4 linked regions of the Homo sapiens genome follow. The protein of the gene in region 1 interacts with the protein of each later gene in a pairwise test. Each region holds a gene or a part of one and is shown in the gene's direction. Other genes may lie near its edges. The genes, in order: FNBP1, AKAP9, TNKS and DNM1.

Evidence for each region.
Region 2: the proteins of FNBP1 (region 1) and AKAP9 interact in a two-hybrid assay, tested with the Homo sapiens proteins (one study listed by BioGRID).
Region 3: the proteins of FNBP1 (region 1) and TNKS interact in binary tests that used the Homo sapiens proteins (3 or more experiments, as listed by UniProt).
Region 4: the proteins of FNBP1 (region 1) and DNM1 interact in binary tests that used the Homo sapiens proteins (3 or more experiments, as listed by UniProt).

What each region holds. Positions count from the first base shown.
Region 1 is NC_000009.12:129,893,188-129,900,222, reverse strand, and holds part of FNBP1 (formin-binding protein 1), read left to right. Parts: intron 1-118; coding exon of another isoform or gene 119-121; coding exon 122-258; intron 259-4,226; coding exon 4,227-4,385; coding exon of another isoform or gene 4,386-4,405; exon of another isoform or gene 4,406-4,962; intron 4,963-7,035. UniProt on the Homo sapiens protein: May act as a link between RND2 signaling and regulation of the actin cytoskeleton. Required to coordinate membrane tubulation with reorganization of the actin cytoskeleton during the late stage of clathrin-mediated endocytosis.
Region 2 is NC_000007.14:91,999,832-92,006,866, forward strand, and holds part of AKAP9 (A-kinase anchor protein 9), read left to right. Parts: intron 1-1,016; coding exon 1,017-3,404; intron 3,405-7,035. UniProt on the Homo sapiens protein: Scaffolding protein that assembles several protein kinases and phosphatases on the centrosome and Golgi apparatus. Required to maintain the integrity of the Golgi apparatus. Required for microtubule nucleation at the cis-side of the Golgi apparatus.
Region 3 is NC_000008.11:9,775,909-9,782,878, forward strand, and holds the end of TNKS (poly [ADP-ribose] polymerase tankyrase-1), read left to right. Parts: intron 1-741; coding exon 742-828; 3' UTR 829-6,438; downstream 6,439-6,970.
Region 4 is NC_000009.12:128,213,379-128,220,378, forward strand, and holds part of DNM1 (dynamin-1), read left to right. Parts: intron 1-4,852; coding exon 4,853-4,926; intron 4,927-5,203; coding exon 5,204-5,353; intron 5,354-5,670; coding exon 5,671-5,874; intron 5,875-6,609; coding exon 6,610-6,708; intron 6,709-6,802; coding exon 6,803-6,963; intron 6,964-7,000. UniProt on the Homo sapiens protein: Catalyzes the hydrolysis of GTP and utilizes this energy to mediate vesicle scission and participates in many forms of endocytosis, such as clathrin-mediated endocytosis or synaptic vesicle endocytosis as well as rapid endocytosis (RE).

The sequences.
Region 1 (7,035 bases):
CCTCAGTTACAGCACTCGCTGAGGGGCGGGGTTGCAAGTGCTCTCCAGTCGCAGGGACTCAATCTGAGTCCTCCCTGGGGTCAGTCGCTTTAGTTGCTTTGTGTTTTCCTTTCTTGAGCAGCCCAGATGGCAGTTACACAGAGGAGCAGAGTCAGGAGAGTGAGATGAAGGTGCTGGCCACGGATTTTGACGACGAGTTTGATGATGAGGAGCCCCTCCCTGCCATAGGGACGTGCAAAGCTCTCTACACATTTGAAGGTGACATTTCATGTCTGCTGGATTCCCCTGCCTTTTATAAACCATAATATCTGAGTTACTCTTCTTTCACTTTTCCTTCCTTCCTTCCTTCTGATCATTTTTATTCCTTTGTCCTTCCTTCCTTCCTTCCTACCTTCCCTTCCCCTTCCCCTTCCCCTTCCCCTTCCTTCCTTCCCTTCCCTTCCCTCCCTTCCCTTCCTTCCCTTCCTTCCCTTCCTTCCTTCCTTCCTTTTTTTCATACAGGGTCTCGCTCTCTTGCCCAAGTTAGAGTGCAGTGGTGCAATCATGGCTCACTGCAGCCTTGACCTCCTGGGCTCAAGTGATCCTCCAACCTCAGCCTCCTGAGTAGCTGGGACTACAGGCAAGCACCACCATGTCCGGCTCATTTTTGTACTTTTGTACTTTTTGTACTTTTCAGTAGAGACAGGGTCTCACTATGTTGCCCAGGCTGGTGTTGAACTCCTGGATTCAAGCAGTACTCCTGCCTCAGCCTCCCAAAGTGCTGTGATCACAGGTGTGAGCCACTGTGCCTAGCCACACTCTTCTCTTTCTGTGACCAGAACTTTCTTTAGAAGCCTTCCAGATCTGGCCGGGCATGGTGGCTCACACCTGTAATCCTAGAACTTTGGGAGGCTGAGGCGGGCAGGTCACTTGAGGCCAGGAGTTCAAGACCAGCCTCGCCAACATGGTGAAATCCCATCTCTACTAAAAATACAAAAACTGGCTGGGCATGCTGGCAGGCGCCTGTAATCCCAGCTGCTCGGGAGGCTGAGGCACGAGAATCACTTGAACCCGGGAGGCGGAGGTTGCAGTGAGCTGAGATAGCGCCACTGTACTCCAGCCTGGGTGACAGAACGAGACTCTGTCTCAAAAAAAAAAAAAAAGCTGCAGCAGCAGCCTTCCAGATCCTTCTCTACTATGCTTTTATCCTACTCATGGTATGATTATTATTTGGTTGTATATTTTGACTTTTGGTTCGTATAACTTAACAGCTTCCAGAGAGCTTGCTTCACTGCAGCAGACGATAGGGAGGATGATCATTTCATCCATTCATTTAATATCTAGTATCTATAGCGCTCCTGTCTTGTAAAGGCCCATGAAGTGGGGGGATGCAGGTCGTATGATATGGCACCTGCCCAGAGGGAAATCAGGCAGACACACTTAAGGAGCAAGCAGCGGCTGGGTGCAGTGGCTCACGCCTGTAATCCCAGCACTTTGGGAGGCCGAGGCAGGCGGATCGTGAGGTCAGGAGATCGAGACCATCCTGGCCAACATGGTGAAACCCCATCTCTACTAAAAATACAAAAATCAGCTAAGCGTGGTAGCGCATGCCTGTAATTCCAGCTACTTGGGAGGCTGAAGCAGGAGACTCACTTAAACCAGGAGTCGGAGGTGGCAGTGAGCCGAGGTCGTGCCACTTTACTCCAGCCTGGCAACAGAGCAAGACTCCCTCTCAAAAAAAAAAAGCAGGCAGTTTGCAGTGTTTGCCAGAAGAGGGATACAGAGGAACGGGGAGGACAGGGGAGAATGAGGTCGCTTCCTTAAGGAAGTTTGGAGAACTTGCCATGGCATGGGGGGTGTGGCCAGAAATGGGTGTGGTGTGGCTGGAGCTTAGATGTCTTAAGTCCTAATAGTGAAATGTGGCACTAAAGAGTGGGAAGTGCCAATGGGGGCGAGGTAGGGAAACATCTGGGTTTTATGTGGCAAACATTGAGGAGCTATGGGAGGTCCCCTAGCAGGGTGTCGATGCAGTCAGAGCTGTACCTTAGGAAAGTCATCGTCAGATGTGTAGGATCCACTGGAAGACATGGAGGATGGTTAGAAAGACTAGCCCAGGCCGGGCATGGTGGCTCACGCCTGTAATCCTAGAACTTTGGGAGGCTGAGGCAGGCAGATCACCTGAGGTCAGGAGTTCTAGACCAGCCTGCCCAACATGATGAAACCCCGTCTCTACTAAAAATACAAAAATCAGTGAGGCGTGGTGGCGGGCGCCTGTAATCCCAGCTACTCGGGAGGCTGAAGCATGAGAATTGCTTGAACCCAGGAGGCAGAGGTTGCAGTGAGCCAAGATCGTGCCATTGTACTCCAGTATGGGCAACAGAGGGCAACTCTGTCTCAAAAAAAAGAAAGAAAAGATAAACTAGCTTAGTGTTTCTAAACCAATGAACCTTGAAACGATGTCCTGCAGAGCGTTAATAAGGAGGCCATGAAAGAAGCTCTCAGGCCAGGCTCAGTGGCTCACACCTGTAATCCCAGCACTTTGGGAGGCTGAGGCCAAGAGTTCAGGGCTACAGTGAGCTATGATCGTACCACTGCACTCCAGCCTAGGCGATAGTGTGAAACCCTCTCTAAAAAATAAATAAATAAATAAATAAAATTACGAAAAAGTTGCATTTTAATATAATGAATAAATTTTTAAAACTAGCAATCAGAGCTCAAGTAAGTTTGGGAAGCCCTGGGATAAATAAATTTTACAGATTTCTTTACTACAGGACTTTTCAGAGCCTTTAATAGACTAAATGTTCATTGTGACAAAATAAGAAAGACGTACCAGTTTAAACGTTCCCAGTTTTACTTCATATTCCAACCATCCCCCACCGTACCCTGTTGCCCTGTTAACAGCTCCCTAAACTCTTTGCCTTGCAGAAAACTGGGGGGTGGTGGGCAGCCTTTGAAATGATCCTAGCAGAAGGTCTTGGGGGCCTTGTTCAAGGAATGGATACAGAGATGCCGCCATTGACAAACTGCATATATTCGGGGCTGATCAAAAGCCAGGAACAAAAAGGAGAGGAAATCCAAGACGGCTCCCAGAGTTGCATTCCTGGGAGGACAGAGAGGTCTAGGGAAGTGGAAAAGCAGGAGGATATAGTTAGGAGGAAGAACAGTGAATCCAGGTTCATCTATGTTGTTTCAGGTGTTGGGGCCATGTCTAGGTGGCAGTGTGCTGCAGACAGTGGGAAAAGTGGAATCTTGGCTGCAGAAAGTACCAGAATGGAAGCAATATGTGAGGACAGTGTTTAAAGAGGAGCAGTTGGGCCGGGCGTGGTGGCTCACGCCTGTAATCCCAGCGCTTTGGGAGGCCGAGGCGGGTGGATCACCTGAGGTCAGGAGTTCAAGACCAGCCTGACCAACATGGTGAAACCTCGTCTCTACTAAAAATACAAAATTAGCCGGGCGTGGTGGCACATGCCTGTAATCTCAGCTACTCGGGAGGCCGAGGCAGGAGAATCACTTGAACCCGGGACAAGTGGCATCACACTCCAGCCTGGGCAACAGAGCAAGACTCTGTCTCAAAACAAACAAACAACAACAACAAAAAAATTGGGAGGCTGAGGCTGGTGGATCACCTAAGGTCAGGAGTCAGACCAGCCTGACCAACATGGTGAAACCCCATCTCTACTAAAAATAGAAAGGTTAGCCGGGTGTGGTGGTGCACACCTATAGTCTCAGCTGCTCGGGAGGCTGAGACAGGAGAATCGCTTGAACCGGGGAGGTGGAGGTTGCAGTGAGTTGAGATTGCACCACAGCACTCTGGCCTGGGCAACAAGAGCAAGACTCCATCCCCCACAACCCCCCCAAAAAATAACAGACAAAAGAGAAGCAGTTGGAGCCACGAGGGTACCTTTCTCCTGAGAGAGATCCAAGTGAGACAGAAGAAGACTAGAGAAGAGAACCAAAGATTTATCCAGTGAGAAATACTTACCATTCTGGGAGGGAGGAGAAAGAGGGCCCTGGAGGACTTAGAGAGGGTCCCTAGAGAGACAGAGGTAAGAACCTGGACATTTCTGTGCAGAAGGAGATGGTTTTGAGGCAGTGGGTGAGGGGTCCGTGCATCTGAGAAGGTCCGAGTGGGGTGAATTTTGTGTGGACTTCATCTTCGACGACACTTGTTTCATTGCGAAGGCCACTGTTTGCTTCCTCCCTGCATTTGCCAAGACATCTAACATATCCTGATATTGCTTTTTCAGGTCAGAATGAAGGAACGATTTCCGTAGTTGAAGGAGAAACATTGTATGTCATAGAGGAAGACAAAGGCGATGGCTGGACCCGCATTCGGAGAAATGAAGATGAAGAGGGTTATGTCCCCACTTCATATGTCGAAGTCTGTTTGGACAAAAATGCCAAAGGTGCTAAGACTTATATTTAATACCATAAAAAAAAAAAACTTAAAAAAAATGGAGTTGTTTCTCCCCACAACCATGACTGTTACAGGCAGTTCCTCAAGAGACTGGCTGGCAAGCACCATAATGCACGTTCTCCTGTAGTCTCACGTGGACTTCAGGGTCTGGGCACCTGAATTGCCTTGTCTAGTTTGGGCTGTAATCAAGTTTCACTTGCTGATGAAATTTTATGTGGAAAGCTGCCAACCGCCAACTTACAGCTATGTCATTCAAAATCTGATAAACATTTCTTCTTTTGGCGGTATCTGTAGATTAAAAAAAAAGTTGCATTGTAGCTTCTCATCTTTCTGAATTTAAAAGCCGGCACGCATCATGCAGGTGCCAAAGACTTCCCTACTCTTGTTTATATCTAGTATCCACCATACACTGAGCTACATTAGGTGGTTACAGATTGTAACTTAATAAACTGAACTGTGTTAGTTTGTTAAATTGTATACTCATTCACTTGGGAGGAAGTCACAAGTGAAATAACATCTCCTTCTTGACTAAAGCAGTAAATAAGATTCTTATATTGGCACCAAAAGTGTGTGTTTTTACTTAAACCTGGTCAGCATCCTTGGTAGGGCATCACGAGTACCCTGTTCCATCTACATGATCCCAGACAACCAGCTGAAATCTGGAAAAGTTTGGTGAATTGACCACTTGATTTTTACATTGCATTGCTGATTTTCCAAGTGTCATCAAATTGACAGGTTTTTGTTGTTGTGTTTGTGTTTTTGTTGTTGTTGTTGTTTTGAGACAGAGTCTGGCTCTGTTGCCCAGGCTGGAGTACAGTGGCTCACTGCAACCTCCGCCTCCCCCAGGTTCAAGCGATTCTCCTGCCTCAGCCTCCCGAGTAGCTGGGATTACAGGTGTGCACCACCACGCCTGGCTAATTTTTGTATTTTTAGTAGAGACGGGTTCGCTCTGTTGGCCAGGCTGGTCTCAAACTCCTGACCTCAAGTGATCTGCCTGCTTCTGCCTCCCAAAGTGCTGGGATTATAGGCGTGAGCCACCGCACCTGGCCCAAATTGACAGTTGATCAGATGTGCTAGTGCTGTTTAGATGGAGTTACTTAAAAGGCAGAGCGTGTCCCTGCATCAGCTCCTTTTGGCTGTGATTTCCTCTCACACTTGGTTCGGTTTCTGTTGGTTTTCCAAGTAGAGCTGCACTCACGCTTGCCCAGGTGGGGCTATAAAGAGAACGTGGTGTGGCAGCAAATGCTTCTCCCCACAGACACAGATCTCAGCACATTGCTGTTCAAAGACTTTGGGGGTTTGCTTTTGTTTTTTTGTTGTTGTTGTTTTTGTTTTGTTTTGTTTCTGCTTTTAATCATTGGCAAGGTTTGGATTTACTGGAAATTATTTTAGAATTTCTGGCTCATTTTATACAATTAACTGTAGCCAGAATGAAGTAAAATGTCTCACCACATCGAAAGGAATCTAGGCCACATGAGAATTTGCATTTTTAAATTGGCATTGATGTGGGAGGGGAGATAGTGAAGTTGGTCACATGCGTAGATGGTTGCCAGGCATTTCACTGTGCCCATTTCCAGAATCCACCCCGAGATCATAGACAACCCACTACAAATGGGTCAGAATGAAGGTGTTGGGTCAGATTCTCTTTTTATTTGATTTTGAAAATTATTTCCTTGTGTCCTTCCTACTTTCAAGTAGGAAATTAGCCCCTGCCTGCCTCTACATTGTGGGTTCATTTGATCAGCTCAAGTCCATTTAAAGCTGATTTTCCAAGCAGTAGCTGCACATTCGGGCTCTAGAACCTAGTAGGGGTTCTGGATGCTAGGGGCCGTGTTTCAAGATTCTCACAGCCAGTTAACCTTTATTTAGTGACAGCCTGATTTTTTAAAAAACTTTTTTTTTTTTTTTTTTTGAGATGGAGTCTCGCTCTGTCGCCAGGATGGAGTGCGGTGGCACAATCTTGGCTCACTGCAACCTCTGCCTCCTGAGTTCAAGCGATTCTCCTGCTTCAGCCTCCCAAGTAGCTGGGACTACAGGCGTGTGCCACCATGCCCAGCTAATTTTTTGTATTTTTAGTAGAGACAGGGTTTCACCGTGTTAGCCAGAATGGTCTTGATCTCCTGACCTCATGATCTGTCCACCTCAGCCTCCCAAAGTGTTGGGATTACAGGCATGAGCCCGTGCCTGGCTTTTTTTTTTTTTTTTTTTTTTTTTGAGACAGAGTCTCACTCTGTCACCTAGACTCAAGGGCAATGATACAATCCTGGCTCACTACAACCTCTGCCTCCCGAGTTCAAGTAATTCTTGTGCCTCAGCCTCCCCAGTAGCTGGGATTACAGGTGCCTGCCACCACACCCGGCTAATCTTTGTATTTTTTTTTTTTTTTAGTAAAGACAGGTTTTCACCATGTTGGCCAGGCTTGTCTCAAACTCTTGGGCTCAAGTGATCCGCCCGCCTCAGCCTCCCAAAGTGCTGGGATTACAGGGTGAGCCACCGTGCCAGGCCCAAATTTCTTTTGGATACTTTTGCTGGCATAGTATCAATAAAGCCACCCATCCCGACCCCAGGCCTCTTTGTAGATATTGCAGCAAGAAAATCAGCTGACCCTTCAACCACAAGGATCTGTTTAAATGAGCAGT
Region 2 (7,035 bases), on another chromosome or scaffold:
TTGACATTTCTTCTTTAGTTATGTTCATTCATTCATTCATTCATTCATTCAAGGCACCTTTAAGTCCTGTTTGCCTGGGACTCCTGTCTCTTTAAAATGATTTTACTTACCTACTTATGTCCTGATCCATTCTGTAGATTTCATGTATTTATTTGTTTTTGAGACTATAGCCCTCTATTACTTACAGAGGCAAGTAAGTTACTGAAGCAAAACTTTGACCTAGGGCCTCTGCTTGACTTTGTCATGCTGAAGTAATCACCATAACAGATATGCCTTGGCCTGTGTCTGGGCGTAGCCCTATCTCCATTCCAAAATAGAATCCCAAATAAGAACTGGGGGAGAGTATCTGCTTTGCTTTGAAAATTCTGTTTAAACCAAAAGTCCTAGGACCAAGTTGTTATGCCATAAATGGTATAGTTGTCTTAGATGTCACTTGAGGTTCAGCCTTTTAAGCATTGCATATCTCTAAATTTCTGACTGACTTAAGAGCCCAGGACTGAAGTTAAGACAGACCGTTAGGAGTCTGTTTTTGTTGTTTTTCTTTTTCCATAGCCCTTGCCCATGACACACATTGAAGTCACCAGAATACATGTGAGGAACTTTTATTTATTTTTATCTTTCTGAATGTGTCTAGAGTATATGCAGTACTTTAGCTATAGAGAATACTAAATATTTAGAATGTTGATCAGTTAATAAGAAAAATGAAAATGTAACAGTTTGGAGACATCTAAAATCAGACTGGGTTTTTAAACTAAAAATTTTAATCACAGAAATGTTAAGAGAAATTTCTTCTAAGAAGGCCAAAACTACTGTAGTGTTTGCTCACAAGTAGTGTTGGTTACACGAGTTCTAAGTGTCATTATTGTGGAAAAAATTGAGGGGCAGGACCAACATTTACTTTTTGTAGAATTTTTTAAAAGAGAAACTTCTGTCAGTCTTTTGGTAATGAGATGAAGCAGTATAATTTGCCAGAAGCTAAAAATGCCATTCTTACATTTTCATTTTTTTTCCTAAAGGAACAAGATAAAAAAGTAGAAAACTCAAATAAAGAAGAAATACAGGAAAAGGAGACAATCATTGAAGAATTAAACACAAAAATAATAGAAGAAGAAAAGAAAACTCTTGAGCTAAAGGATAAATTAACAACTGCTGATAAATTACTAGGAGAATTACAAGAACAGATTGTGCAAAAGAACCAAGAAATAAAAAACATGAAATTAGAGCTGACTAATTCTAAGCAAAAAGAAAGACAGTCTTCTGAAGAAATAAAACAGTTAATGGGGACAGTCGAAGAACTTCAGAAGAGAAATCATAAAGACAGCCAGTTCGAAACTGATATAGTACAACGAATGGAACAAGAAACACAAAGAAAGTTAGAACAACTCCGGGCAGAGCTGGATGAGATGTATGGGCAGCAGATAGTGCAAATGAAACAAGAATTAATAAGACAACACATGGCACAGATGGAGGAAATGAAAACACGGCATAAGGGAGAAATGGAGAATGCTTTAAGGTCATATTCAAATATTACAGTTAATGAAGATCAGATAAAGTTAATGAATGTGGCAATAAATGAACTGAATATAAAATTGCAAGATACTAACTCTCAAAAGGAAAAACTCAAGGAAGAACTAGGACTAATTTTAGAAGAAAAGTGTGCTCTACAGAGACAGCTTGAAGACCTTGTTGAAGAATTGAGCTTTTCAAGGGAACAGATTCAGAGAGCTAGACAGACAATAGCTGAACAAGAAAGTAAACTTAATGAAGCACATAAGTCCCTTAGTACAGTGGAAGATTTGAAAGCTGAGATTGTTTCTGCATCTGAATCCAGAAAGGAACTAGAATTAAAACATGAAGCAGAAGTTACAAATTACAAGATAAAACTTGAAATGTTAGAAAAAGAAAAGAATGCTGTGTTAGACAGAATGGCTGAATCACAAGAAGCTGAATTAGAGAGGCTGAGAACACAGCTTCTATTTAGTCACGAAGAAGAGCTTTCCAAACTGAAGGAAGATTTAGAAATTGAACATCGAATAAATATTGAAAAACTTAAAGATAATTTAGGCATTCACTATAAACAGCAGATAGATGGTTTACAGAATGAAATGAGTCAAAAGATAGAAACCATGCAGTTTGAAAAGGACAATTTGATAACTAAGCAGAATCAATTAATTTTGGAAATTTCAAAGCTAAAAGATTTACAGCAGTCTCTTGTAAATTCAAAGTCAGAAGAAATGACTCTTCAAATCAATGAACTTCAAAAAGAAATTGAAATACTCAGACAAGAAGAAAAAGAAAAGGGTACACTTGAACAAGAAGTTCAAGAATTACAACTTAAAACAGAATTGTTAGAAAAACAGATGAAGGAAAAAGAGAATGATCTTCAAGAAAAATTTGCACAACTTGAAGCAGAGAATAGCATTCTTAAAGATGAAAAGAAAACCCTTGAAGACATGTTGAAAATACATACTCCTGTTAGCCAAGAAGAAAGATTGATTTTCTTAGACTCCATTAAGTCCAAATCCAAAGACTCTGTGTGGGAAAAAGAAATAGAAATACTTATAGAGGAAAATGAGGACCTCAAACAACAATGTATTCAGCTAAATGAAGAGATTGAAAAGCAAAGGAACACTTTTTCATTTGCTGAAAAAAACTTTGAAGTTAACTATCAAGAGTTACAAGAGGAGTATGCTTGCCTTCTCAAAGTAAAAGATGATTTAGAAGACAGTAAAAATAAACAGGAATTAGAGTATAAAAGTAAACTTAAAGCACTTAATGAAGAGCTTCATTTGCAAAGAATAAATCCAACTACAGTGAAAATGAAAAGTTCTGTCTTTGATGAAGACAAAACTTTTGTAGCAGAAACATTGGAAATGGGTGAGGTTGTTGAAAAGGATACAACAGAACTCATGGAAAAACTTGAGGTAACCAAGCGAGAGAAATTAGAGCTGTCACAGAGACTGTCTGATCTTTCTGAACAATTGAAACAGAAACATGGTGAGATTAGTTTTCTAAATGAAGAAGTTAAATCTTTAAAGCAAGAGAAAGAACAAGTTTCATTGAGATGTAGAGAGCTAGAAATCATTATTAACCACAACAGGGCAGAAAATGTACAGTCATGTGATACTCAAGTAAGCTCTTTATTAGATGGAGTTGTGACCATGACAAGCAGGGGTGCTGAAGGATCAGTTTCTAAAGTAAATAAAAGTTTTGGTGAAGAATCAAAAATAATGGTGGAAGATAAAGTTTCTTTTGAAAATATGACTGTTGGAGAAGAAAGTAAGCAAGAACAGTTGATTTTGGATCACTTACCATCTGTAACAAAGGAATCATCACTTAGAGCAACTCAACCAAGTGAAAATGATAAACTTCAGAAAGAACTCAATGTACTTAAATCAGAACAGGTATGTTTACTTCTTCATATATGGTAAAGCACAATGAAAAAAATGTACATTTCACACTAAGGTTTCACCTTCATAGAACATAAGTTCATATCCTTACAAGAGAATGAAAATGAACCCTCTGATGTAATTTTAACTTGAGCCTATCATTTATTTATCATTTAAGTACTTTTTTTTTTAAACCATTGTTGCCTTTCTTTCAGTTAATCTATCTTGTATATTCTGCTCAGGAAATAAAACACTAATGGATTCAGATTTTCTTTGGAAAGACAAGAGTTTGTATAACTTTATGGAGAATCTCAGCATTAGAAAAGTTATTAATTTCATTTTGTAATTTTTGTTATAATCTCAAAGATTGGTTTCAGCGTTTTTATTTCATAGTGATGTTTTCAAGTCTCTACAACTGAAAATGAACTCCTAAGCTTTTTAATAGTCTCTATAGTTGTTAGGTGGTTATGAAATTATATTTTCCTGGGAGAAAAAAAAACCTTTGATTTAAGTCCTAGAGTTTTTTCAGAGTCTTTATTATACCTGAAGGGGAAAAAACAGTATTAACTCTAAATATAGTTAAAGAATTATATGTATATAATAATAGATCACTCCTGATAATTTATATTTGCCAGATACTGATATTAAAATAACAGGAAAATTCTGCTATCTACAATGTAATGGTGCTAACTAAAGTTTTATGTGTTTCTTCATTTTTCTAACATATTTATTGACTCTCTTGGCAAGTACGAATATAGTGGCCAACAAGAGAGAGGTTTCTGGTCTCAAAGAGCATATATTTTAGTGAGGGAGGCAGATGATAAATGAAACAAGTAGGATAGTGAGAAATAGTGATAAATTCTCTGAAGAAATAAAACAGGATAATGTGATAGGGAATGATGGAATTATTTCTGAGGGCTCTGTTCTGTTCCATTGGTCTATATCTCTGTTTTGGTACCAGTACCATGCTGTTTTGGTTACTGTAGCCTTGTAGTATAGTTTGAAGTCAGGTAGCGTGATGCCTCCAGCTTTGTTCTCTTGGCTTAGGATTGACTTGGCAATGTGGGCTCTTTTTTGGTTCCTTATGAACTTTAAAGTAGTTTTTTCCAATTCTGTGAAGAAAGTCATTTCTGTGAAGAAAGTCATTCCTGATGGGAATGGCATTGAATCTATAAATTACCTTGGGCAGTATGGCCATTTTCACAATATTGATTCTTCCTATCCATGAGCATGGAATGTTCTTCCATTTGTTTGTATCCTCTTTTATTTCGTTGAGCAGTCGTTTGTAGTTCTCCTTGAAGAGGCCCTTCATATCCCTTGTAAGTTGGATTCCTAGGTATTTTATTCTCATTGAAGCAATTGTGAATGGGAGTTCACTCATGATTTGGCTCTCTGTTCGTCTGTTGTTGGTGTATAAGAATGCTTGTGATTTTTGCACATTGATTTTGTATCCTGAGACTTTGCTGAAGTTGCTTATCAGCTTAAGGAGATTTTGGGCTGAGACGATGGGGTTTTCTAGATATACAATCACGTCATCTGCAAACAGGGACAATTTGACTTCCTCTTTTCCTAATTGAATACCCTTTATTTCTTTCTCCTGCCTGATTTCCCTGGCCAGAACTTCCAACACTATGTTGAATAGGAGTGGTGAGAGAGGGCATCCCTGTCTTGTGCCAGTTTTCAAAGGGAATGCTTCCGGTTTTTGTCCATTCAGTATGATATTGGCTGTGGGTTTGTCATAAATAGCTCTTACTATTTTGAGATATGCCCCATCAGTACCTAATTTATTGAGAGTTTTTAGCATGAAGTGCTGTTGAATTTTGTCCAAGGCCTTTTCTGCATCTATTGAGATAATCATGTGGTTTTTGTCTTTGGTTCTGTTTATATGCTGGATTACACTTACTGATTTGCGTATGTTGAACCAGCCTTGCATCCCAGGGATGAAGCCCACTTGATCATGGTGGATGAGCTTTCTGATGTGCTGCTGCATTTGGTTTGCCAGTATTTTATTGAGGATTTTTGCATCGATGTTCATCAGGATATTGGGAATGTTGGAGAGGGTAGTAACAACATTAAATATGGTGGTCAGGAAACATCTCTAGGAGGAATTGACATTTGAGCTGAAATCTGAATGACATTGAAATTAGAGCAATTGTAAAGACACGGGTAAGTTTAAAGAACAGAATGAAGGCTTGTGTAGTTGAGTTTGAGAGAGCGGGAGAGTGGAAGAAGAGTTTGAAGGAGGAAGAGACCAGACCTTGGAGAATCTTGCAGACTTTGGAAGCCATTGGAAAGTTTTCTCTTTTTATTCCTAAATATATCATATTTATGATCTTATATCAAATGTCGAGATATTTTATATTTATGATTTATATCAAATGTAGAGATATTTTATATATTTACTTGCCTAAATAGAGTCAAGAAATTCGAATTGCTTAACGATTTTTTTGTTTGTTTGTTTTTGAGACCGAGTCTCACTCTGTCACCCGGGCTGGAGTGCAGTGGCGTGATCTCAGCTCACTACAACCTCCGCCTCCCGGGTTCAATCAATTCTCCTGCCTCAGCCTCCTGAGTAGCTGGGATTACAGGCATGCACCACCACCACGCCTGGGTAATTTTTGTATTTTTAGTAGAGACAAGGTTTCACCATGTTGGCCAGTTTGGTCTCAAACTCCTGACCTTAGGTGATCCAACAGCCTCGGCCTCCCAAAGTGCTGGGATTACAGGCGTGAGCCACCATGCCTGGCCAAATTGCTTAACTGTTAATGTTCTGTTAAATGTCTGGAATTGTTTTCAAAACCAAAATGTATGGCAGTTACTTGTGAAAATGTCACACATCTTTTAAAATTTTTTAGGAAGCATTTTTGGGAGAAGACCTGAATTTGACCCTCAGATGGTCAAATTTTCTTATTAGGAATTCTAATTTTCTTTTTCTTTTTCTTTTTTTTTTGAGACAGGCTCTCACTGCCGTCCAGGCTAGAGTCTCATGGCGCAATCACAGCATCCTGCAGCCTTGACCTCCTGGACTCAGGTGATCCTCTCACCTCAGCCTCCTGAGTAGCTAGTATTACAGGCATGCACCACACACCCAGCTAGGTTTTTGTATTTTTTGTAGAGACAGGGATTTGCCATGTTGCCCAGGCTGGTCTCAAACTTCTGGGCTTAAATGATCTTCTTGCCTTGGCCTCCTGAAATGCTGGGATTACAGGCATGAGTCTTTGTCACCAGCCAGAATTCTATTTTCTGTACTAAAGAGATACTAAAAAGATACTTTTGATGGCATTCAGATTCCCTCTATTTGACATTGACTACATAAAGTAAAGCCTGTAAACTTCCTGCCCGTTCATCATTACCAAGACAAACCTTTATTGATGGGAAGGGAAGTTCACAGAAGAAATCGAGCAGTGACTTACACAATAGTAACACCTAAGAGCAGCCTAAATATGCTTGAAATAATGTGGATGCCACACAGATATCTCTAATACACTTAGGTAGTTTGGGCAGAAGGAGAAAAATAAAAACATCATAGAAGTCTTTTCAGTGTTGGGATGCAAGGAAGAAGGAAGAGTGGCAGGAATTTTTTAGATACTGATTAATTATTGATGCTGGGAGAGGTCATAGATTGAAGTGTATGTGTTTAAAATTG
Region 3 (6,970 bases), on another chromosome or scaffold:
GGTGTCCTACCTCTCCTTCCAAATTGCTGCCTTCACTGCAATTTCTGGTTAGGTTTTCAGCAGCTTCCTCTGATCAGCCTCCTTTTTCCTGCTCCCACCAAGAAGAACTCTTCCCATTCCAGACACAGCCTTGTGTTTTACTGACTGCAAGAAAAAAGAGAAAGAGAATATGAAGGAGGCCAGTCTAAATCGGAGCCCTTATCTCTCCTGTAAATGATGCCTTTGAGTAGTCAGTTTTTAAATATTGTTCCCAAACTGTTGTTTCTGGGTTATTGGTGACTCAGTACATCTCACCCTTACTCCTTCTAGCTCAGTGGGTTACATCATCTTCTATGATTAATTTGGACTGGATTCAGCAAAATTTTTCTTTCATTTAGCAAACTTTTATTGAACACACGCTGTGTGACAGCACCAATGCTCTGTGAGGTGAAAAAGATATTAGTGCTACCTCGGGCCTTAGTTTCCCTGCTTATGACACATGGCTCTCTAATAAGGGATGAATGGAGCTTAATTGACAGTATTCGAAGTAGAAATAACATTCAGTTTTCTAGATTGTAGGGTTTATACACATTTATTTACAGTTAAGTAGGTGAACCTCAAATTGTTCAGGCACCTATTAAGAAACTGAGTCTATATAGAATATTGGTCACGATTAACAGCCTTTGAGGCTTCCACATTCGGCAAGGCTTTAATATTGTGCCTACTAGAAGGGTGATTTGTTTTTCTTCTTGTCCTTCCCAGGCATACCCAGAGTATCTTATCACTTACCAGATCATGAAGCCAGAAGCCCCTTCCCAGACCGCAACAGCCGCAGAGCAGAAGACCTAGTGAATGCCTGCTGGTGAAGGCCAGATCAGATTTCAACCTGGGACTGGATTACAGAGGATTGTTTCTAATAACAACATCAATATTCTAGAAGTCCCTGACAGCCTAGAAATAAGCTGTTTGTCTTCTATAAAGCATTGCTATAGTGATGAATAGTATGAGTAACTGATACATACTCAACTGCTACTGTTCCCTTTGAGGAAATGTTTACAGGGGCGGCCTTTTAACATATCTCAGGCTCATTTTCATTGCAATTATCCATTTCTAAAACAAGATTGCTTCGATCTAGACTTGGAAATGGAAAATAAGAAAACCAATGCTTTTTCAAATGTTCACAATTCACACACTACATTTGTTTTGTTATGCATGACGTGTCTATAACAAATATACACATACGACAGGCAACAAGCTTGTTTTTGATTTGCCAGACATGCATCATTGGCTATTGTTTGTTTGTTTTTTGTTTTTTTGTGTTTTTTGGGTTACTTTGAAAATGAGCCAGAGCCTTCTTGAGGATATTTTGCACAAAGTCACGCTGACAAAATCATTAGCAGTGCAACCCAAGCTTCTGGCTGAGCAAGATTCAGTTTCCACTTTTTAAAATTTTTTTATTTTGCTCTGTAGCTGCACTTCTCGTTATCATAAATTGAGATGAAAAGGAAAAAACATCAAGTTTTAGTACCTTTTTATGAATTGGCCTATCTTACAAGAGAAGGGCACAAACACCAACCTGACTTAGGAACGCCTAAATTCAGAGAAGTCAAAGCCGGTGAAGGCCACTTGCTCTTTCCAACACAAGCCTGCCACAGAGGTCTTCGGGACAGTACTGGAGATGCAGGTTGACACGGGCTTGAGTTCCAAGGTGAAAAAACTGGGGAGGCTGTGAAGGAAGAGCTGCATTAAGGAGGGTGAGGAGCGTGTGGTTCTGTATCATGGCAGCCCCAATGGATCCAGGGGATGCCTCCAAAAAATACATGCTTCCCTTCCCTTAATCTGTACTGTTGGGATTGTTACCCCTCCAAATTAGCTGCCTTATTTCAAAAGTCAGTGAAATTACTGCACTTGATGAGGGTCACAAAAATACCACTTGATTGTTTCTTTAGTTGAGAATGCTGGGATTCAGACTCGAATAGTGGATAGATACACACAAATGCAAGGACTTTTTTGTTTACTCCAGATTTGGGGTTTATTTTGAGTGGCATGCTTCAAATAGTTCATAAAGATCCTTGCATTAAATTTCTGAACCATTTCTTCAAACTTCTTAGTGTGTTTAGACAAGGAGAACAAAAATTGAAACCAAAGCCCTTTCTGTTATTTTTTCAATGAAGGTGAGAAAGAAATACCATACAATTTTCTTTGTGAAATTACTGTTTATTTTCATCAACATTTACCAAGTGCCATTGACATTTATAAAAAAAAATGATCCTTTATAGTTCTTACACTTGCCCTTTTCACCTTAACTGAATATGAATTGAGTGCACTAACTTATTTACTTGATATACTGTGCATCTACTCTGCTTTGAAGCGAAAGAAATATAAACACGAGGAGGAATAGGAAAGACAGTGTGACACAAACTTGCCATTGCAATTCAAAGCCCTGAAAACGATGGGTTTAATGCAAGGTGATTAAGCTGTGACCTCCTTTAATCTCCTGAAGCAAAATAAAATGGTTACATGCAAAACTTCTAGAAATAGACTCTTAAAATATATACATTTTGCTTTGATTTTGGCTTCAACCCAGTGCTGGAACTAGGCATCCAGACTAGTTTGAATGTTTGTAGCTGAATTTTTATGGGTCCTCAAAATTAAATCGAGAATTAGCCTCAGTTGTTGCTTCTTTTGAAGTTTCAGTGACCCAAGCTGGGTGTTTGTGTCTTGGCTACTTGTTTAATAGCACTAGAATTCCAGGTGAAGCTTTGAGAGTTGATATTCATTAAGAGGGCTTTTTTTCCCCTTCTTTCCTTCTCTTTTGCTGTAACAAAGGGTTGAAGAAATTGCCATCTGTGTAGTTTTCAGTAGCTGTCAAGTGTGTCTTACTTACCTTCCCCCAGACGTAGTTTAAAATGGTAAACACAGCTGTGATTTTTAGTTAAGTAAAAGAGTTAATATGATATAGATATGGAAAGCTTTATGGCTTCATTAAAAAGATAAACCACTACCTAACTGTGGTTGTATGTTGTTTCCATCATACTAACTAGATGAATGGATGCGCCAGTTTTCATCTTGGTCCTTACACTTGAGAAGTTAAACTGTGGTTCAGTATTTAAACTGCCAGTGTTATACGTCTCATGCTCTGTGTGCCAGGTGAAGGTACTGTGTAAGGAAGACATTTGCGGTGCTTCTTGTCCTATAATGATTCAAGTATATAGTAGTTCTTGAAAGAGTGTGCATATATTACTCATCTGCTTAAGAGAGTGGGTTAATGGATATATCAGAGGAGCCAAATACATTTTTTTCAGAACTTGAAAACCAAAGGTCATCATGAGTGCACTCAAAAGTTAGGACAAGTTTATTACATTTGGGATTTTCATCTGTAGCCGTATGAAGAACCCTTTCCAATATAAAAGCATGGCATTAAATTAGGCTGAAGTCTTTTATTTTTTGTATATGTACTATATAGAAATACTAGCAAGTTAGGATCATCCAATATGGCCTACCCCGAAATGGCCCCTCTGTTTCCCTAACCACATGGAAGAAAGAATCTGAACGTCTCCACCGGCTCTACCCGAGTTCCAAAACTAAAGGGCTTCTCCAGACCTGATGGTTCCAGTTTACCTGCTGTTGGCCTGCTGGATACTTGACTCAGGCATAAATTAAGTGCCCTGGTCCCGAACTTTCTCCCTGTATTTGACCTCCTTCCCTCTTTCCTAAATTACTAGTCTGGAATTAAAATTAGCTCCAGCAATGACCTTTGACTCCATTCATTTTCTCCTCATCTTGGGTCTTAAAAAAGGAGACCAGATACCTCCTAGCTTTTGTATCACAACCAGGAATGGGTATTAGGCCTCATGCGCTTTGCTCAGAACACTGCCGCTTTGTTAACAAATGACAGCATGGAACCCAGAGTTTTGATTCGATGCAAAATAACAGCAGTGCAACCAGGATTCTTGTTTTCCTTTTCCTTCTTGGAGTTTGGAATTTCTAGCTTTTCAAGCAGCATAAGTAGAATCAACATTAGGATGTTTTCATGAAATAGCATCCTTATACTTCTTTGAGCTTGATGTTAGTGGCTAGACTGATTTCCCTTTGCTCTCAAAATACAAAGTGCATTGAAGTATACAGAGAAATGCCTGAATATGGCAAGCAAATAATGTAGATTAACATTCTATTATTGTATCCGTTTTACAAAAAATAAAATTTTGATATATGCCGGAGAACGGCATTAGAATGCAATAAGTTGTCTAGGTTTTTCTGTTTCAGTGTCTCTCCCAATGGCACGAAGGGTTATTGGGCATTGTCCCCACCCCCGCCTTTTTAACATGTGCACTATCTGGATTCCTGTAAATGGCCTTGCAAACAGAAGTGGTGTGTATTTTCAAGCACCTTTCCCCCATTGTATCCGAATCCCTCTTGTGTGATATCTGTGACAAATAGCCTTCTTCTTGTGTTTTCTGTTGGACTAATTGTCTCACGTAAAGCTATAGACCTTACTAATTTGGCAGGTATTCAAAACTGCCATTAAGATAGGATTTCATGTCAGATACGTATTTAAAGAGTAAAGTCAAATTTGTTTAATGTCAGATCAGTGACAGAAGTGAAAAGAAAGTAATTGTGAAAGTGATGTTTGAGCTATTGTACACATCTAGCATATGGAAAGCAAATGCACTCGAAAACTACTATTCTAGAACATGAGGCTTCTTCAGCAACTTGTGCACTCTGCCATTAATAAATTAAATTTTTCCCCTCTAGAAAGCCTTAACTATGGCGGAAACTTTTTAACCTTTTATATTTTAATAAATAAAACATTGTAGTCCCATTTCTTAGTGTTTGAAAGGTGTGTCAGTGAGTCGGCCATGTCTCCATGTGTTTCAGACCTGTTCATCTTATTTTATGATGGTATATTTCATAAGTAATATTCCCTTACATGCAATGGAGCTGATTAAAATTAATCCATTTCAATTTCTCCATATTGGAACTTCCTCAGCTACCAGATTTCTGGTTTGGAGAAGTGCTGGAAAGATTTCAAAGCCTATTCAGTTGTGTATGTGGGGATACGACAGCAACTGTGATACCTTGTAGAATATGAGTGATATGCAAGCTGTGTTTTTTAATTGTTTTAAAATGTAAATTATGGTTATGCTAAAGTGAAAACCTAGAGGAAGCTAATGATTTTATATACTTTGCACGACCAAATATGGTCGTAGTATGACGAGTTTTATACATTGCCAGAGAGTTCTGCCTCCTCTGAAATAACATTCGCACTGTAGATTGCATTTCGGCTTTTCCTCCTTTCACATTCTTTTTTGCTTTACACTTCACGTCTTCGCACCTGCCCTACCTCCCATCCTTTCAAAGAGGTTTCTTTCACGTTCCAGAATTCAGATTGTTCTGTGATTTCTTTTACATCAGTCTACCCATTTCTGCAGGCAGCCCTGAAAGCCCTTGTGTTGATTCAGAGTGTTTGCAGAGAAATGCAGTTGAACCCTGGTAGTGGGGTGTCCCTCACACACCCGCGCACCCCTCCCAAAGTTCAGGATGAAAGGCTAGAAAACCCATTCAAAGTTAGGAAAGAACACAGATCTTTGAGGCCGATAGCCTAGACCTAGAAGATGACCTTGAGTATGTAAACATTGTCTCCGTGACACAAAACACTGAAACTCTTCATGTGCATATAACACCTGCTTCTGCTCCCATTGTTTCAAGCTCATCTTATCTTTGTAGTAGTAATGTTTGTCTTTGATACCTACAAACTAAAAAGGTACTTTTATCAAGGTTTCTCAAAACATTTACAAAACCAGCTTTGAGAAAATGTTATGTTGCCTGGCAACAGCACTCGGAGTAGTAATTGTGTTTTCTCATTGTGATGTTGGTCTGTGTGAGCAACCAGTGTAGTGACTCTTTGGTTCATTATTCGTGTTGTTTTTATTTTTAGTCTCTGTGTGACCCAACAGTGGCAGGGGTTACAACCCCCTCTCCTTTCTTTTTTGTATTTATCTATTTGTAGGATTGTCAGATCAAGTACAAGATGCCCAGTTAAGTTTGAATTTCAGAGAAACAATTTCACGTTAAGAATGTTTCATGCAATATTTGGCATATATTTACAGTAAAAGCATTCATTATTTGTCTGAAATTCAAATTTAACTGAGCATGCTGGTTTTTCTCATTGTTTGGTTTTTCTAAATCTGGCAATCCTACAGCTGTGGTCATGGGAAATCACCTACAGCATGTTAAAGTCCTCTAGTCATCATCTCGTCACCTGAAATGGAAGTCCTTTTTCCCTCACCCTCCACTTCTTTCCAAAGGAGGGCATCAAGGAACTTAACCTGCCTGCCTGGTGGGTTTCTATTTAAGACATCTTTGTGATTATATTTAACCTGCAATTGTGCTTTGGCTTAATGTCTAGCTCACTGTACTTGTAAATGATTAATATTCAATAAAACCATTTTTAAAGTACACTTGTGTGGATAGCAGTTAGCTCTTAAGTATTTTCATTTTGCCCTGCTTGTTCATTTCTGCCTGACCAACCTTAACACAACTGACTTGAAAAACTGTCAGAATACAAATACCAACCCTCCCTCTCCATCTTCCAGTGAGACCTGGGTTTTAAGTGACTTATCCTCACGTCTCAGCCCACATGGCAGTTACTGAATAACTTCTGCAATAGCACGGGCAACATGGGTTCCTTTCAGAAATATCTCTTAAACAAACAGGCTGACACTTTAGAGCCAGACCTCCTACCAGGTCCAAAGGCAGCCCAGGGGCCTTGCACAACATGATTGCTCACAGACTCACCTTCTCCACCTCTCGGGGGAGACGGAGGGGAAGAACGCCTGCTTCATGCAACAGTCAGTATTAAATACTTAGCACAGTGCCTGGCGCAGAGGACTAAGAAAATCCTTCCATTCTTCCCCTCTTCTTTCTCCATGCCTAGGGGTCCGTTACATAGCAAATTTGAACCTAGAATTTTATCTGTACAGTAACTTTT
Region 4 (7,000 bases), 1.7 Mb from region 1:
GTCATTTTCTGAATCTTTTAAAATGGAGAACACATGATTTTAAAAATTAGAGGCAAAAGAGATCTATTTCCCTTTTGAAAATACAAAGTCATCAACCCTTGGATTGATGGAAGGGAGGGAGGGAGGGTGGGAAAGAAAGTAGGAAGGATGAGAAGATAAGAAATAAGGGAAGGTAATAGGCTCTGCTTAATAGGGAGAAAGATTGCTGTGGAGAGAGCACCTACCCGGACTCAGGAGCCCTACCTTGTCACCAACTTGCACCATGATCTTGGGCAAGACTCTTCCCTTTTGTGCCTCAGTTTCTACCCTATACAATGAAGCCGATGGTAGAGCTCATCTTCCATTCCCTCTTTTGGTCAGTGCGGGTGTCCTGAGAGTCTGCTACATGCCAGACCCAGGGCTAGGTGCTGGGATATTGTGACAAACAAGTCTAGCCTAGTCCCTGCTCCCGGGGCCATCAGAACATCAAGGAAAGCCAAGGCCAGAACTGCCCTGCAGTGTTCAGACCTCAGCTTGAAATTCATGAGCTGTGACGGGGCTGCCTAGGGTCCCCTGGGGCAGCAGGAACAGAGAGCGACTTGTTGCCTGGGGGTAGCCTCACCTCCTCCCAACTGTATTTCTTGGCCTACCCACTCCCTTGCAGGCACCCCAACTCCCTGCTTCAGAGCACGCCCCTGCCCACCCCCCTTGCCTTCCACCTCCAGGGTCAAGATCTGGCTGGAAATATCCTGCCCTCACCCCCAAGCTCACTGCCATCCTCCAGGAAACCCACCGTCCAACTCTCTCCCCGCTGCCTCTTCTGGTGACGAGGCTGTGGGAGTCCAGCCTGTGGTCTCAGCATGCCCAGCAAGCTATCGTTATTTATAATCATAGTAGCCACGATTGGTTCAGCCATCAGTCTGTATAAGCCTCACAGCAACCCATTTTACTGATGTGGAAACTGAGGCTCAGAGAGGTATGGTCATTTGTGCACAGCCACACAGCTCCTACATGACAGCTCAGACATTCAATGTGGGGTCCATCTGACATCAGAGCCCAAAAAAGAGGAGGCATAGAAGAATGACCGGCACTGGGTGCACGCCCAGTTAAGCACGTTACTTCCTGGGGTCATTTGCATTCAGCAGGGCCTGGGAACCAGGATCCCAGAGCTCTGATCCCAAGTCTCAGGTCCTAGAGTAGGGGTAGGGGTAGGGGTCACATCAGCCCTTGGGTTCAGTTTCTCCAGACCCCTCTCACGGTGACAACTCCAGTTCAGACAGGGAGTGTGGCATTTGGGGTTCCTGAGAGGTGTTTGTTTCGTCCCCTCATGTTTCACGTTTGAAGGTGCCTCTGCAGATGGCCAGGCACAGCCTCCCTGGGAACCCACCATCTGCTCCAAATGAGTGGGGAGAACTGGCATGCCAGCAGCCGCCCCTCCCACGCTGGGCACAGCACGCGGCCTCCGAGGCTGGTGGGCCTGATACTTTTCTCTGGGCACCTGTTCTGTCCTCCCTTAGCCTAACCAGGAGCTGGAGGCTGGATCTAGTCTGGATCCCCACTGGGGAGAAGGAGGGCCACCTAGGGGACCCTTAAACAGAGGGCTAAAGTGGGACAGTGTGTCCAGGTGAAAGGGAAGAGCTAGGGAGCTGCTGAGTCATGCACATTCCTTCTCGTGTTGCCTGCACGCCTACTACGTGCGGGGCCTGTGCCAGGCAGGAACCCGGAAGTGAGTGAGGAGCTCATTGTCCGGACCTGGGGACCTGCTGGTCCTCCCCACTGTCAGTCCAGACGTGAGACTGGGAAGCAGACCTCTCGGGTCCTGGCACCAGGCACCAGGCCAAGGAAAGGCCAATGTAGGATTCGATGAAGGAGCCAGCCTGGCACTGGCTCCTCAGCATGGGGCAGATGGTCCTTAAACTTAACACGGAGTGTGGAAACCACCTGAGGATCCATTTAAAACCCAGATTCTGCCTCCCCATGAAGCCCTCTTGAGATTCTAGCCCAGCATGCCTGAGGAGCATGCGTCTGGACAAACTACCCAAGGCATTCTGATGCAGGCCGCGTGAGGGCCTCACTTTGAGAACCTGGGCCATGACAGAGATGGGCCACCTCCCCATCTGGGCACCAGGAGATCTTGGCTCTGGGAGGGGTTGACCCCCAGACATGGCCCTGCCTCTAGTCTCTGCTTCCCAGAAGCTACTTGCCCTTTAAGTAGCCCTGGGGAGGCAGCAGGCAGCTGGCCCAGACCCTGACCACCCAGCATTCTTGCCAGCTGGGCCCTGGGCTCCCCACACCCGCTATGTGGCACCTTGGAGACCTCCACCCCTCAGGCTCACCAGGGCTGCGTGGGCCTGTCTGCTCAAGGAGAGGCCTCTCAGGGAAGAACTCCAGGGAAAGTCCACGTCTCTGTGTGGGGGACTCTTTGTGGGGAGTCCCATCCTTTCCAGCCCCTCCTGCAGTTTCCATGGCAACTACTGTTGCCATGGTGTTGCTGGTGAGGAGCTGGTGGAGAAGAGGGTGGACCCCCGGCCCCCACACCCACCCCAGCTTCTATGAGAACAGCTGTTCTATCTCCACAGCCCTGGGGGACTCCCAAAACTGGAAGTCACGCCCCCAAAGGAGTCTTTGAGTAAAGGATGGGAGAGATTGAGACCGGAAGTCCTCCCACCCCCCAGCAAACCCCCTCCCTCTGTGCCGCCTGGCACACCTCTGTTCTAGCACATACCACGCTGCATTGCATTATCTGTTTACTTGTCTGTCTCTCCCACCACACTGTGAGTTCCTCAGGGTGGGAACTGTCTGACTCATCATCTCCCATCCCCAGAGCCCGGCACAGGGCCCGGCACAGACTGAATTTAATTGAATTACATAAAAAGCCAAGTCTGGCTTCTTGGGTTTGAGACAGCACCATTGAATGAGGAAGTTTCCAGGCTGAGGGTCCAACAGACACTCAGCTTTGAATCCCCACTCTGCTGTGTGACCTTGGGTGAGTCACTTCACCTCTCTGAGCCTCAGCTGCTTCCTCTGTAAAATGATAATCTCTATATCAGAGCACAGATTCGAGGACTTGGAGATTCAATCAGAATTTATTGAGTGCCCCTTGTGTGCTAAGCCCTGTCCTGGGCACTGGGATACAGTGGCAGACAGAAAGAGGCTGCCCTGCTCACTGTCTGGCAAGAATGAAAAGCATTTGCCTGGTGCGCAGAAATGATGAATATACACAGGGCTTACCATCCTTCTCCTTCTCCAGTATAATTCCTGACTCCTCCCCAGCAGCGTCCACTTCCCCAGACGTGAGGCAGTGGAGAGGCTTCAAGAGGGGGCTTTGAACCTAGGAGCTCTGGGTCTAGTCTGTTGTACCTAAGACCCTTAGCTCCTGACCCTGGGGTGCAAGAAGACTTGTGAGTCTGGGTCAGGCTCTGGGCTGGGAGCAAGAGACCTGGGTTCCACCTCTGGCTCTGTAGAGCTTGAATGTATCTTTTTCCCTCCCTGGGCCTCTCCATGAATAAGGCGCTGGCTGTGTCTCAATGGTCCCTCGGGCTTCAACCTGTTCCCCCCTTTCCTGGGCCCTGGAGATCCCATGACTGGCAATTCTGACATCCTGATTCCTGGAGAGGCCTTCACCCTTGTGCTTGCGCCAGCTGGAGGGTGGTGCAGAGGGAGGTGGATGAAAAGAGCTGACTGGACAGAGAACCGGCACCCACAAGAGTCAGCCAAAAGGACAGCTGAGGTTGACATTGGCACGAGCAGATGTCTAAGCTATAGACTGTCAGGTCTGGGGACGGGGGATGACTTTGGGACCTCTCAGTCCAGTCCTTCAAAGGCGGCTCGGTTCACAGGGGGCTGAAGGGCAGGGGAGTGTCACTGCAGAGTCAAATATATCCGAGACCAGGGTCTGCTCTGCCAGATACTGGCTGTGCAACCTGAATGTCTCTAAGGTGCAGCTCCCTCATCTGCAAAATGGGGGTAATAACAGCACCTGCCTCATGGGGCTACAGTATGGAGCCCCACTAAGCGCCTGGCATGCAGTAGGCACTAAGAAGCATGAGTTTTTTTGTTTCTTTGTGGGTTTTTTTGAGGTGGAGTTTTGCTCTTGTCGCCTAGGCTGGAGTGCAATGGCGCGATCTTGGCTCACCGTAACCTCCGCCTCCCGGGTTCAAACAATTCTCCTGCCTCAGCCTCCCAAATAGCTGAGATTACAGGTGCCTGACACCCCGCCGGCTAATTTTTTTGTATTTTTAGTAGAGACAGGGTTTCACCATGTTGGCCAGGCTGGTCTCAAACTCCTGACCTCAGGTGATCCGCCCGCCTCAGCCTCCAAAGTGCTGGGATTACAGGCGTGAGCCACCGCGCCCGGCCCATGAGTCCTTTTCCTTGCCACCTCCTTCCCCACTCTTCTTCAACCCTAGCCATATGGAGCCTGGAGAAGGGGAAGTGAGATGCTGCCCTGCCCCACAGCGGAAGGGAGGGGAGAAGTTACAGCTCTGTTTCCTGGGATCCACTCTGTGGGCATTGGACACATAGGCATGTGGGAGACCCCATGCCTCAGTTTTCTGGGGCTGAATGGCCGTGGCTGAGTTGGGGCAGGGACTTCCTATTGGTTCAAAACCAACACAGGACGTATCTAGGAGTTGATCCAGTCTCTTGGCAGCTCAGATGCATAAATTCTGTGACCCAGGCGACTTGAGGAAAAGTATTTTCCACCTTTCTGGGCTGCCATATGCTCTTAGTTACCTGAAGCCCCTGGGCTAAGGAGCGGTGGAGCCAGCACTTTGGAAGGAGCTTTGGCTTTCCCAGGGGCCGGACAGGTACCCCTGGGACAGAGGGCGCCCCCTCATATCTTGACCCTCCTTTGACCTCCAACTCATTGCAGGGACTTCTTGCCTCGAGGATCTGGCATTGTCACCCGACGTCCCCTGGTCTTGCAGCTGGTCAATGCAACCACAGGTACGTGCCCTCCTTCACCAGCAGCCAGGCCTGCCCACTCCAGCCTCTCCCCCGTCCCCAAGCTGAGGGCCAGCCTGGCCACGAACTTGCTTGCTGTGTGACTGTGGGCCTCGTTCCCCTTAGGGATAGCGGGGATCAAAATACATAATGGAGACGTGGGTGGTGGTTCTGCTTGGGTGTGTCTAGGGGGTTCTATTACCGGTGGGAGATGAAAACCCCCAGGTGGGGTTCCAGACCTTGATGCCTACTGCCCTTCCCCTGCCCGCTTCTGGAGCAGAATATGCCGAGTTCCTGCACTGCAAGGGAAAGAAATTCACCGACTTCGAGGAGGTGCGCCTTGAGATCGAGGCCGAGACCGACAGGGTCACCGGCACCAACAAGGGCATCTCGCCGGTGCCTATCAACCTCCGCGTCTACTCGCCGCACGGTGAGGACCCTGGCCCCGCCCTAACCTCTAAGAATCATTTTCTTGGCCACGCACCTCTGCGTGCCTCGCTCCTCCTGCAGACTCCGCCCCTAGAATGACCCTGCCTCTGCATCATCCTATTCCAAGCTCCACCCTGCCGTGATTCCGCCCACTTCCGGCCACGCCTCCAACAGACTGCCACTTTCGCCCTGAGATTTCCTAGTCCCACCCACCTGCCACCCTGCTCCCAAGCAGCTTCTCTAACCCCGCCCTATTCTTTAACCTCGCCCGCGGCCACGCCCCTCGCCTTGAGCCCGCCCTCTCGCCGCCCTGTCCAGTGCTGAACCTGACCCTGGTGGACCTGCCCGGAATGACCAAGGTCCCGGTGGGGGACCAACCTCCCGACATCGAGTTCCAGATCCGAGACATGCTTATGCAGTTTGTCACCAAGGAGAACTGCCTCATCCTGGCCGTGTCCCCCGCCAACTCTGACCTGGCCAATTCTGACGCCCTCAAGGTCGCCAAGGAGGTGGACCCCCAGGGTAGGTTCCCACCCGGTGGCCAATGCACAAAACCCCAGGCTTGCAGGCTGTCTATTCTTAGTGTAAAGGGGAGCCTCTGAACGGTCTAAGAATAGCGGTGGGATCAGATTTGTACCTTTAAAAATCACTTTGGGGGTCAGGCATGGTAGCTCATGCCTGTAATCCCAGCACTTTGGGAGGCCAAGCCGGGAGGATTGCTTGAGCCCAGGAGTTCGAGACAAGGCTGGGCAACCTAGTGAGACCCCATTTCTACAAAAAATTTAAAAATTAGCCGGGCACCGTGGTGCACGCTTGTGGTCCCAGCTACTCGTGAGGCTGAGGCCAGAGAATCACTTGAGCCCAGGAGGTTGAGGCTGCAGTGAGCCCTACTCGCACCACTGCAGTCCAGCATGGGCAAGAGTGAGACCCTGTCTCAAAAAAGAAAAAAAGGCTGGGTGCAGTGGCTCATGCCTGTAATCCCAGCACTTTGGGAGGCCAACTTGGGAGGATCGCTTGAAGCCAGGAGTTGGAAACCAGCCTGGCAACAAAGCGAGATCCCATCTCTAACAAATAAAAAAACAAGAAGAATAAATAAAAATCATTTTGGCTACTCTGTGGAAAATGAATAAGGGGGAAAGAGAGGAGGCAGTGAGCAGGCAGGGGGCCGAGGAGAGCAGGGGGATGGGAGTGGGAGTGCATGGAATTGTGTGTGAGAGCGGGTGCAGCTGTAGACGGCCCTCCTGCTGGTGCACCCAGGCCAGCGCACCATCGGGGTCATCACCAAGCTGGACCTGATGGACGAGGGCACAGATGCCCGTGATGTGCTGGAGAACAAGCTGCTCCCCCTGCGCAGAGGTAAGCAGGCCATGCCCCTCAACCACTCCCCAGCCCTTCCCCACCCTTCCCCTCCTCTTGAGGCTGGTTGCCCTGACCTTGATACTGTTCACAGGCTACATTGGAGTGGTGAACCGGAGCCAGAAGGACATTGATGGCAAGAAGGACATTACCGCCGCCTTGGCTGCTGAACGAAAGTTCTTCCTCTCCCATCCATCTTATCGCCACTTGGCTGACCGTATGGGCACGCCCTACCTGCAGAAGGTCCTCAATCAGGTAGGCGACCAAGCCAGGATGGGGCCTGGGGAAACAA